Linked DNA regions of Homo sapiens. The protein of the gene in region 2 purifies or fractionates together with the protein of the main gene of each other region. This does not show direct contact. Each region holds a gene or a part of one and is shown on either strand. Other genes may lie near its edges.

Region 1 (3,753 bases), on a different chromosome or scaffold from region 2:
TAAGCTGCCCTGGAATGAACTTTAGTACCAGCCTGCTGTCCTGGACTAAATGATATGACCATACTGTAGGGCCAATGTATACTATTTAATGTCTTCATCTACTTAATTATCAGTTGCCCCCTGGTTTCCTTAAAGAGCTAATGATGCCCAACTATTTCTAGTGAGAGCACTTTGCTACTGAGAGAGTCAAACACCAAGGTGATTCTCTGAACACATTATCTGTGTGTGCTAGGTACAACAGCTAGGAAGAGGTAAGATGATGGTGAGTTACTTAAAGCTCTTAAGAAATGACCCTAGTAGAATATCCATAGGGGTTAAGAGATGAAATTTATTTCTTGGCTTAGCATTTTGGAAGAAATCACTTGGCATTTGTCATTGGCAAGATAAAAAGAAGCTCTGATTTCTGTTCTCCAGAAGATGTACTTGGCTTCTTCCTTTCTCTTAATTTACCCCTATGGCTCTCATTTTGCCTCAGAATGTGAAAGAATAGGCTTACTACTTTGCATTTAGTTAATTTGGTGAGTTCACTGTACTCTCATCTCTGGGCTATTAAATAGTTCAAAAATAAATATCGCATCACTTGTGGAATATGTAGCATGGATCTCATTTGAGCTGTGTTTTAAAACAAATGGTAATTATTTAACATTTACATCATACTTGGAAAGTATTTCAGAATAGAACTTTTTAATAATAAGTAGTCAAACACATAACTGGGATCAATGGGCAAGAGAAAAATAAAATTTTAATGTTCCATTGAAAGGTGTAGGCTCAGGAAGAGAGAAAAATACTTATGTGTATTTTGTATACTCATGTGTATTTGGGACAAACACAGGTTGTGGACGACAGGATTGAAAGTCAGATTAACTGGATCAAAATTCAGGCTGCGTACTGAGCCAGTCTAAGATTTCACCGAAATCTGGGAGCTGCTCCCACTCCCTGGACTTTTGTGCAAAGACTGGAGGAAGCTGTGAACAGCCTGGGCTAGGAGAACATTCCCCCTCTGGGAGGAGAGGCTCGCATGAGCTCATGGGGCTTTCCACCGCAGACCCAGCCTTGGCAGCCACAAAGTGTCCAGCAGTGAAACCTGGCCCTTCAGTTCTCAAGGGCCCTTTGGAACATATTTGACTCTAAGCAGAGGTCACTATTCCAAGAGTGACTCATGTCTTGGGGTTAAGTGGAGATGATGGGTGGGATCCATGAACAGATCCAGCTCTTCCCAATGTGGGGGGCACCAGAGTGCATAGCTTGGGAGGGTTGGTCATCCGAAGAGGCACTGCGTGGGTGCATCCCGGGCAAAAAGGATGAGAAGGTGATCCACTGGCTTCCATACCCTGGGAAAGGTGTCAGACCGTGAGGTCACATCAAAAGGTATGAGTGTGGGTACCTCCTTCCCTCCCCCGACGGTGGGGGCCTCATCTCTCGGCCATATCACCTCTGTGCCTTGCACACTTCCTGGCTCAGACTCAGCCCTGTCCACGTTCTCTTCCACCATCTGATCTGCCCCCATCTCCCAAAGACTACTTGTGGGGACTAGGGAGGTTTAGGGGTGTAGTCAAGCCAGATGCACCGAGGTTGCTGCGGTGGGAAGAGGGCGCTGGGAGGGAGGAGGACCTGGGGCGCAGCCGTGGTGGGTGCGCCCTGCCAAGAAGGGCGGGGGCGACGGGGCGCGCACGCGGAGGAGGAGGAGGAGGAGGGAGACGGGAGGGCGTGTGAGCGAGTGAGACAAGAAAAGGGAGCGCGCCCGCCGCCGCCGCCGCCGCCGCCCTCCTCTGGAGAGAGAGGCTGGAGTGAGGCTGTGCGAAGCGCCGCATTTCAATGAGGACGGGCCGAGGCACATCCCTGCACTAGTGGCCGCAACCGAGGCGCCGCGCTCCAGCAGCTGCTGCCGCCCAGCCCGGCCCCGCCGCCGCCCCCCAGCCCTGCAGCCCCGCAGCCCCGGCCGCGCCCAGCCCGGCGAGGACAGCACCAGGAGGCGGCCCCCAGCGCGGCCACAAAGACCCCCGGCGGCGTCTCTCCGCGGACCGGTGCGTGGTTTGCCTTCCCTGGGGACGGGAGCTGCGGGGAGGGCGGCCGGGGGACTCCGCAGAGCCCGCTCCGCCCGCAGCCGCGGGGCGCCGAGGGCAGGGCGGGCGCTCAGCTTGGCCCCGCCGCCCCGCCCGCAGTTCCTCGAAAGGCGGCCGCCCTGCCCTGGCCAGCCTGGCCCGACCCGGGGGCGTTGCGTGCGGGCGGCCCCGGGGCTGCTGGCACCTGCCTCTTTTGTTTGGTGCCATGGGGCTTTAAACCTGGAGTCAGGCGAGCGGGCCCTCCCAGGCTTTTCGCGTTGTTAGTGGAGATGGAGAGCCAGGGCGGAGGAGCTGGGAGAGGTGCTTGTCATTGTCAGAACTGGCTGCGGAGCGGGAACCAAGGAAGGAGTGGCCGGGCCCGGCCTCTTATTGTGTGTGTGCTTTTCCGTGTGCCCGGGCCAGTGATGTGTGCTTGTGGATGGGGTCGATTCGTGCGTGGTGGTGGCTGCAGCGTGGGTGTTGCAAGTACGTTTGCAGGGTCTCAAGTTCCTTCAGGGACAGCGAGGCTGCCTCATGTTCAAATTAGTACCTGCAGTGCTAAAAGCTTGCGGAGAGGAAATGGCATTTTTTCCTCCTAGTGGGAGCGCACGCACAGCCCCGCAATGCCCCACAAAAGAGGCTGCTTTTGAAAACCAGGTTTGCGCGGAATTGCTCCTGGATTTGGCAAGGAGATGCTTGGTCGGTGAGAGAGAAGATGAAAGGTTTCATTCAAACCGGCTCCCTCTCTGCTGCACCTGTGAGTGTGTCCAGGCACGGTGCACACACGTTCAGCGACCACACTGCAGGCTGTTCCGTGAATACATTTTATGACTGTTCCTAAATATATTGCCTTTCAGTGGGAAAGGAAAGTAGGACAGCGTTTTAAGTATGAAATGTCACATGGATGCAGGTCAGAAGGGATTTTTTAAGAGAGGTCATATAGAGGAAAATTATAAAAGATATGCACACACCCTGTGATGTCTACGTCCGTGGTGGTGCACGGGCCTGGAAGGTATGTGTGCGTTTTATTTCATGCCAGTCCACCTGAATCCTAATCCCACGGTTAAAATATGCCTTGGGACTTCCAGGTCCAGCATCTATTTAGATGTGGTAGCATTTATGCCATTTTTTTCTTGGTATATATGTGTGTAAATTTCTGAAACAAGAACCATGTGCTCATCTAGAGAAGGATGAACATAGATTCCTCAAAATGGTGAGAAATCCCACCGAGAACAATCAGGGATGTTGGTTTCTTGAAATGGCAGGATTTATAGGAAAAGCTCTGATGAGAGCCAGTGGCCCTTCTTACCTCCAGTGTCTGTGGTCGCTGTGGCTGAGGTGCTGTGGTTACCATCCTGGTGCCACTGCACATGTGCACTCAGGCCCTTGGCCACCTATGGTCTCTGAACATTGAGCTGTGTGTTCTCGCAGCCTTCCTGTGCAGAAAGTGTAAACCTGTGGAAGGCCAGTGGATCTTCAGAAGCTCATGCATGGTTCAAATGTATGACTAAGCCAAGGTGAGGGAAAGAACACCTATTTTGTTGCCACGAATAATTACCAGCACACTAGGGTGTGGAGTGTGCTCCATTTAGAGGTAGCTGTAGCCTTGAAAATGATTTCACTCTGAGTATGGTTTCTTTTGTCGACACCATTGCCCACTTTTGGACAGATTCAGGGAAGGGAAGTAAAAGGTGTAGCCCTGCCCTGGATG
Region 2 (3,753 bases):
GAGCTACCCCATAGCTCGTCATAGAGTGGCTGTCACTTACCTATAATTGGTTTCTTGAAATGTTTTGTCCAGTCCTGCAAAGTGAAGAACCTCTATGGGCTTGAGTTGATTATACTGGACTCTACCATAAGCCATGTGGGGGAAGGTACAGCAGCTTAGGAGAGTAGTCACCGGGATGCATGTCTGTGGAGGAGCGAACTCATTTCTCTTGAGCAGTGCAGCAGCTGCCTGGCACAAGGACAGAATTCCAGCTGGGGGAGCCTTCGCATGAAGAGGCTGTCTCCTTGATTAAAAAGTCAGATTCTGAGGCTGAGTGTGGTGTCTCACACCTGTAATCCCAGCACTTTGGGAGGCCAAGGCAGGTGGATCACTTGAGGTCAGGAGTTTGAGACCCGCCTGGCCAACATGGTGAAACCCTGTCTCTACTAAAAATACAAAAATTAGCCAGGTGTGGTGGTGCATGCCTGTAGTTCCAGCTACTCGGGAGGCTGAGGCAGGAGAATCGCTTGAACCCAGGAGGTGGAGGTTGCAGTGAGCCAAGATTACGCCATTGCACTCCAGCCTGGGCAACAGAGCAAGACTCCGTCTCAAAAAAAAAAAAAAAAGTCAGATTCTGGAGGCAGACTACTTTGGTTCAAAGTTTTGGCTCCATCCTAATTGGATATGTGATCTTGGGCAAGTTTTTAAAACTTGATGCACCTGAGTTTCTGCATCTGTGTATGAGGATGGCAGCAGTGCTGGCCTCCCGTGTTAGAAGGGTCACGTGAGTCGATGTGTGCGAGGCGCCCGGAGCAGTATCTCACAGTCAGCTCTCCACGTGTCACTCCTCTGCTGCTGCCTTCGTGGAACCTGAGAGTTGGCATACCTGATGGCCATTTCTTACCTGTAGGTCAAGCCGTGCTAACACTGTTACCCCAGCCGTGGGCCGATTGGAGGTGTCCATGGTCAAACCAACTCCAGGCCTGACACCCAGGTTTGACTCAAGGTGAGTATCGAGGGAAACACTTGGATTTGATGGGACTCCAACATTGAGCACTACCCAGAGAAGGAGTGTCTAAGAAAATACTCCTAGGCCAGGCACGGTAGCTCACGCCTGTAATACCAGCACTTTGAGAGGCCGAGGCAGGCGGATCACTTGAGGTCAGGAGTTCAAGACCAGCCTGGCCAAGATGATGAAACGCTGCGTCTACTAAAAATACAAAAATTAGTTGGGTGTGGTGGTGCACGCCTGTAATCCCAGCTACTCAGGAGGCTGAGACAGGAGAATTGCTTGAACCCAGGAGGTGGAGGTTGCAGTGAGCTGCAATTGCACCACTGCACTCCAGCCTGGGCAACAGAGTGAGACTCTGTCTTAAGAAAAGAAAAGAAAATAGTCCCGAGTCCTTGGCCTGGGATGCCTTGTCAGAGGACAGTGGCCAGCTGGGTTTCCTGGTGTATGCCTCTCCCTTAAGTGTAGTTTCACCTATCTTCAGTGGCAAAATGATTCTTTAATGGGAGGGAGGTGAATATTCTGCCTGTGATGACTAGGAGGCCTCTAGGTGACGTTTTTGGCCTTTTCTGATTCAAATCAGAAGGTTTTTATTTTATTTTTAAAATATTTATTTATTATGAGGCAGGGTCTCACTCCAATGCCCAGGCTGGAGAGCAGTGGCACAATCACGGCTCACTGCAACCTTGACTTCCCGGGCTCAAGTGCTTCTCCCACCTTAGCTCCCAAGCATGCCACCATGCCTGGCTAATTTTTTGTTTTTTTGTAGCGATGGGATTTCGCCAGGTTGCCCAGGCTGGTCTCGAACTCCTGAGCTCAAGCAATCTGCCCACCTCGGCCTTCCAATGTACTGGGATTACAAGCATGAGCCATCACACCCGGCCTCAAATCAGTTTTTTAAAGATGAGTAGGCACTCTCCTGTACTCTTGGTAGAAGTAAAAATTGATACTGCTTTTTTGGAGGCTGGCATAAGCGAGGATATTCTTGCAGCATAAGTTAATACCTTCCAAAGAACCTAGTTGACCAAATAGGAGATGCTGTATAGCCATTAAAAAAGACTGGATCTGTGTGTGCTGACAGGGAAAGAGCACCGTGATCACAGAGCATCTCCGAGCAGGTTGCTGAACACTGTGCTGTATGATCCCATTTGGTTTTATATACATACAAAGTTTCTGGAAGGATAGATAAGGAATTCAGAGTGGTTACCCCTGGGGAGGAGAGCAAGAAGTGGTTATCTCTGGTGTGGGGAAGTGTTGAAGATTTATTTTCTACTTTTAATTGCCACTTTTTTTTTTTTTTTTTTTTTTTTTTTTTGAGACGGAGTCTCGCTCTGTCACCCAGGCTGGAGTGCAATGGCACAATCTCGGCTCACTGCAACCTCCACCTCTCAGGTTCAAGCAATTCTCCTGCCTCAGCCTCCTGAGTAGCTGAGATTATAGGTACATGCCACCATGCCCAGCTAAGTTTTGTATTTTTAATAGAGACAGGATTTTGCCATGTTGGCCAGGCTGGTCTCGAACTCCTGACCTCAGGTGATCCACCCCCCTCGGCCTCCCAAAGTGCTGGGATTACAGGTATGAGCCACGGCACTCAGCCAGTTCCCACTTTTCTTTACTGTTTGTTTTCTCACATGAATATGTAACAAAAGGCATTTAGGGAAAACTAGGTAGCAGTATTTTAACTGTCTTGAGAAATTAGTATAATGATGTAATATCTAAATCATCCTCCTTTGCCTCTGAAAAATTCCTCTTGATGGAAGCAGCCACGCCTGGAAACAATTAACCAGCGTATTTCTGGCTTTGTGGATGGATGGATGATGGCACCCATATGGAGCTTTGGACCTAAACTTTATGTGGATAAGAGTTGGCTTTTTGTAAGATGTATGTTCAATAATTACAACCTTCTTTCTCCAGCTGTGTTTAGTCATTACTGCTTTAAAACATTTTTTTTTTCTAAATTTAGAACGTGCTTTCTTAGGAATGTATGACTTAAAAACTGCAACTTGAGGCCAGAGTAAGGTTAAAATGGCCTATAGAGTTTGGTGTCATCCAATTGCCAAGCTATCTTCACAGAGATTTTCCCATTCTAGGGTCTTCAAGACCCCTGGCCTGCGTACTCCAGCAGCAGGAGAGCGGATTTACAACATCTCAGGGAATGGCAGCCCTCTTGCTGACAGCAAAGAGATCTTCCTCACTGTGCCAGTGGGCGGCGGAGAGGTGAAGTATTTCCAAGGGAAGCCAGGCCACAGTGTGCTGCTTAGTCAAGCATTTCTTTTCCCTGGGCCCTCACCCACGCTTCACCCTCAGAGTCCTTTCAGTGCGTGGGTCCTGATCTCCACACTTCTGCGGGACTCAGAACCCAGTTTTCTCTCCCAGGTTAGAGGCCCAGACTGCAAAGATCGTTGCTCAGCTCTGGGTTCTGTTTTTCTGTTTTTTGGTTTTGTTTTTGTTTTTTGTGGGTTTTTTTTTTTTTTTTTTGAGATGGAGTCTTGCTCTGTCACCAGGCGGGAGTGCAGTGGTGCGATCTCGGCTCACTGCAACCTCTGCCTCCTGGGTTCAAGCGATTCTCTTGCCTCAGCCTCCTGAGTAGCTGGGACTACAGGCACACGCCATCATGCCCAGCTAACTTTTGTATTTTTGGTAGAGATGGGGGTTTCACCACGTTGGCCAGGATGGTCTCGATTGCTTGACCTCGTGATCCGCCCTCCTCGGCGTCCCAAAGTGCTGGGATTACAGGCATGAGCCACCGTGCCCACCTTTTTTTT
Region 3 (2,923 bases), on a different chromosome or scaffold from region 2:
GCTCCCCTTTGCTCATGAAGCCTGTGCTAAAACTATGCTGAAATCTCATGCTTGTTTTCTTTTCTTAGAATGATCATAATTTTTTTTCTCTTTCACCTGATAACTGTCTGGTCCTCTTTTAGGAATCAGCTCATAGTCTCCTTTGAGAAGCCTTTCTGGATTTCCAAAGTTAGCAGCTCACTCTATGTTATTGCCACATTTGTTTTTCACACTCATGTCAGAGTATGTATGTTGCACATACATACAGCGTATATCTTTTTGAACTGCCGTCTTCCACACTGGATTGAACTTCTCAAAGACAGGGATAACTGTCACATCTTTCGTGTCCATTTCTGTACCAGACATATAGTTGATACTCAGTAAAATTGGTTGAATGGAATTGAGAGTGCGTTTGTCACCTTCATGTCTTCTCAGAGCACCTTATTTCATTTACCTTCCATTAAAGTTGGGTTCACTGCCTACATTCATTTTTGTTATTATCTCTGATTGCACATATTAGGAACTCCACAAATGTTGAATAAAGGAATTAGTTCTAATAGCACTAAAGAGCTTATAATTAAGAGACAAATGTATTTTTAGATGCAAAATTATCTAAAGATTTTATTTCCTTGATATACAGGACAGTGACAAAGAACTTCACATTTCGTGCATTTCTTTGGTCACATTTTCTTTCATTAGAATGAATTACTCTTCACTTATGACTTTTGTGTGAACCTCCCGACTCTTCACTCTCAGCTTGTTGACTTGGGACTCAGCAATGTCAGCCCGTTCCTTGGCCTCCTCCAGCTCGTGCTGGAGCTTGCGGAACTTGGCAAGGTTGACATTGGATTGTTCCTCCTGAGAACAGAGATGCATTTGAGATAACAAGAAAATTGGACATTTCCTGATTGTTATTGCTTTTGTTACTTCAGGATTTGCCTCATGAATGAGAAAGAAAAAGGCTCCGTTGTCCAGGCATGGTGGCTCACACCTGTAATCCCAGCACTCTGGGAGACTGAGGCGGGTGGATCACCTGAGGTCAGGAATTCGAGACCAGCCTGGCCAACATGGTGAAACCCCCATCTTTACTAAAATTAGCCCAGCGTAGTGGTGGATGCCTGTAATTCCAGCTACTCAGGAGGCTGAGGCAGGAGAATCTCTTGGACCCAGGAGGCAGAGATTGCAGTGAGCTGAGATTGTGCCATTGCACTCCAGCCTGGGCAACAAGAGCAAAACTCTGCCTCGAAAAAAAAAAAAAGAAGAGAAAAAGGCTTTATTATTTAGTAACATAGTTATTTGAGAGCAAGGCATCCCACAAACTCGCCTATGTAAATGAATGTGCTTATGACCCTCCTCAAGTCTCTCTCTCACTTGACTCTCTTTCTGGCAAACTGAAGAGGCTGCAGTGATAACTGGAAGAACAAAGTAGCAGGGATCTGAATTCAATCTTGTTTCTAAAAAAGAAACTTTAAAAAATAGGTGCAGTAGTGGCATTTGGTGCCAAGAACCCTAAGGAAGGTTTCAGAATTAACAGAATGAAAAAGATAACTGCAGCCAAATTGAAAAAAAAAGTCCCAAGATGGATTTATCATGAAGTTAAATGAAGCTTAGAATTCATACTCTCATTTGCACAGGTCCATATGAGTGCTGGGGGTTGTAGAATGTTCTAGATAGGGAGGGAAGTGGATTGCAACTAAGAAACATTTGTATGTTAACATGTCTGGAAAATTGCTTAAAGAGGTCTCAGAAGAAATAAACTCAAATCTATAAGGCTCCAGTAATTTATGGTTCATTTTTCTCATTCTAAATATTCATGTTCATACCTAATTATGTATTCCCAATTTAAAGAAAACCCCCTAAATTCTATAAACTTTAGGCCCCAAAAAACCTGGATGTGCATCTGAACCTTTCATTTCCACTGTGGAGATACTCACAGCCTCTTCAGCTTGTCTCTTGTAAGCTTTGACTTTGGTTTGCAATTTGTCCACCAAGTCCTGCAGCCTGAGAATATTCTTGCGGTCCTCCTCAGTCTGAAAGAGGTGCAAGTAGATGGTGCCATTATTTTAAAACAACTCATGATTTTCTTGAAAACTATAGGCCTGGAAGATATGAAAACACTGGTCACCTGGTAAGTGAGTTCCTTCACTCTTCTCTCATGTTTGCGAAGACCCTTGACAGCCTCAACATTGTGCTTCTGTTCACTTTCCACCTCACTTTCAAGCTCTCTCACCTGGAAGGGAACAAAGACGTTTACCAGTTTGGCTGTAACTGGCCACAAGGAATTGAGTGAAGTTGTGGAGACCTACCCTGGCCTCCAGTTTCTGGATCTGCTTCTTCCCACCCTTCAGCGCCAGCTGCTCAGCCTCATCCAGACGGAGCTGCAGATCCTTCACGGTCTGCTCCATGTTCTTCTTCATCCGCTCCAGGTGGGCGCTGGTGTCCTGTTCCTTCTTCAGCTCCTCAGCCATCATGGCAGCCTAGTTAGCAAATAAATTTTGAAAATAATGAATTCTGATGATAGCAGGCAGCATGCATGTGTCAGTAAGACAAATGCTCATCTTGCTTACATCAGTGATGGCCTTCTTGGCCTTCTCCTCTGCATTGCGGGCTTCCTGGACGATGTCCTCCATCTCTCCCTGGATTTGGGAAATGTCTGTTTCCAGCTTCTTCTTGGTGTTGATCAGGCTGGTGTTCTGTTTCAAATTAATGAAAGAGAAGAGAAGCACATTTACTTATAACAACTCACATTGTCATTTTACCTAGTGTACACAGGCAAAAATTATTGATCATAAGAAATGTTTAGAATAAAAACCAAATTAGAAGATAATTCTAAGTTTATGCCTTTTCTCCTTTCTATATATAGCTCTTTAATCAAACTTCTAAATTTAATTTTTGATGTCAAACATATTCAACTATTACCATTGCCATTTGTAAGCATGAAACA

What was found.
Region 1: the proteins of CDCA8 (region 2) and DCLK1 purify together in Homo sapiens (affinity purification with mass spectrometry; 3 studies listed by BioGRID and IntAct, with this or other methods). This does not show direct contact.
Region 3: the proteins of CDCA8 (region 2) and MYH4 purify together in Homo sapiens (affinity purification with mass spectrometry; 3 studies listed by BioGRID and IntAct, with this or other methods). This does not show direct contact.

What each region holds. Positions count from the first base shown.
Region 1 is NC_000013.11:36,129,385-36,133,137, reverse strand, and holds the start of DCLK1 (serine/threonine-protein kinase DCLK1), read left to right. Parts: upstream 1-1,755; 5' UTR 1,756-2,024; intron 2,025-3,753.
Region 2 is NC_000001.11:37,702,363-37,706,115, forward strand, and holds part of CDCA8 (borealin), read left to right. Parts: intron 1-889; coding exon 890-985; intron 986-3,078; coding exon 3,079-3,205; intron 3,206-3,753.
Region 3 is NC_000017.11:10,442,691-10,445,613, forward strand, and holds the end of MYH4 (myosin-4), read right to left. Parts: intron 2,673-2,923; coding exon 2,547-2,672; intron 2,457-2,546; coding exon 2,286-2,456; intron 2,210-2,285; coding exon 2,105-2,209; intron 2,010-2,104; coding exon 1,914-2,009; intron 838-1,913; coding exon 685-837; 3' UTR 600-684; downstream 1-599. UniProt on the Homo sapiens protein: Muscle contraction.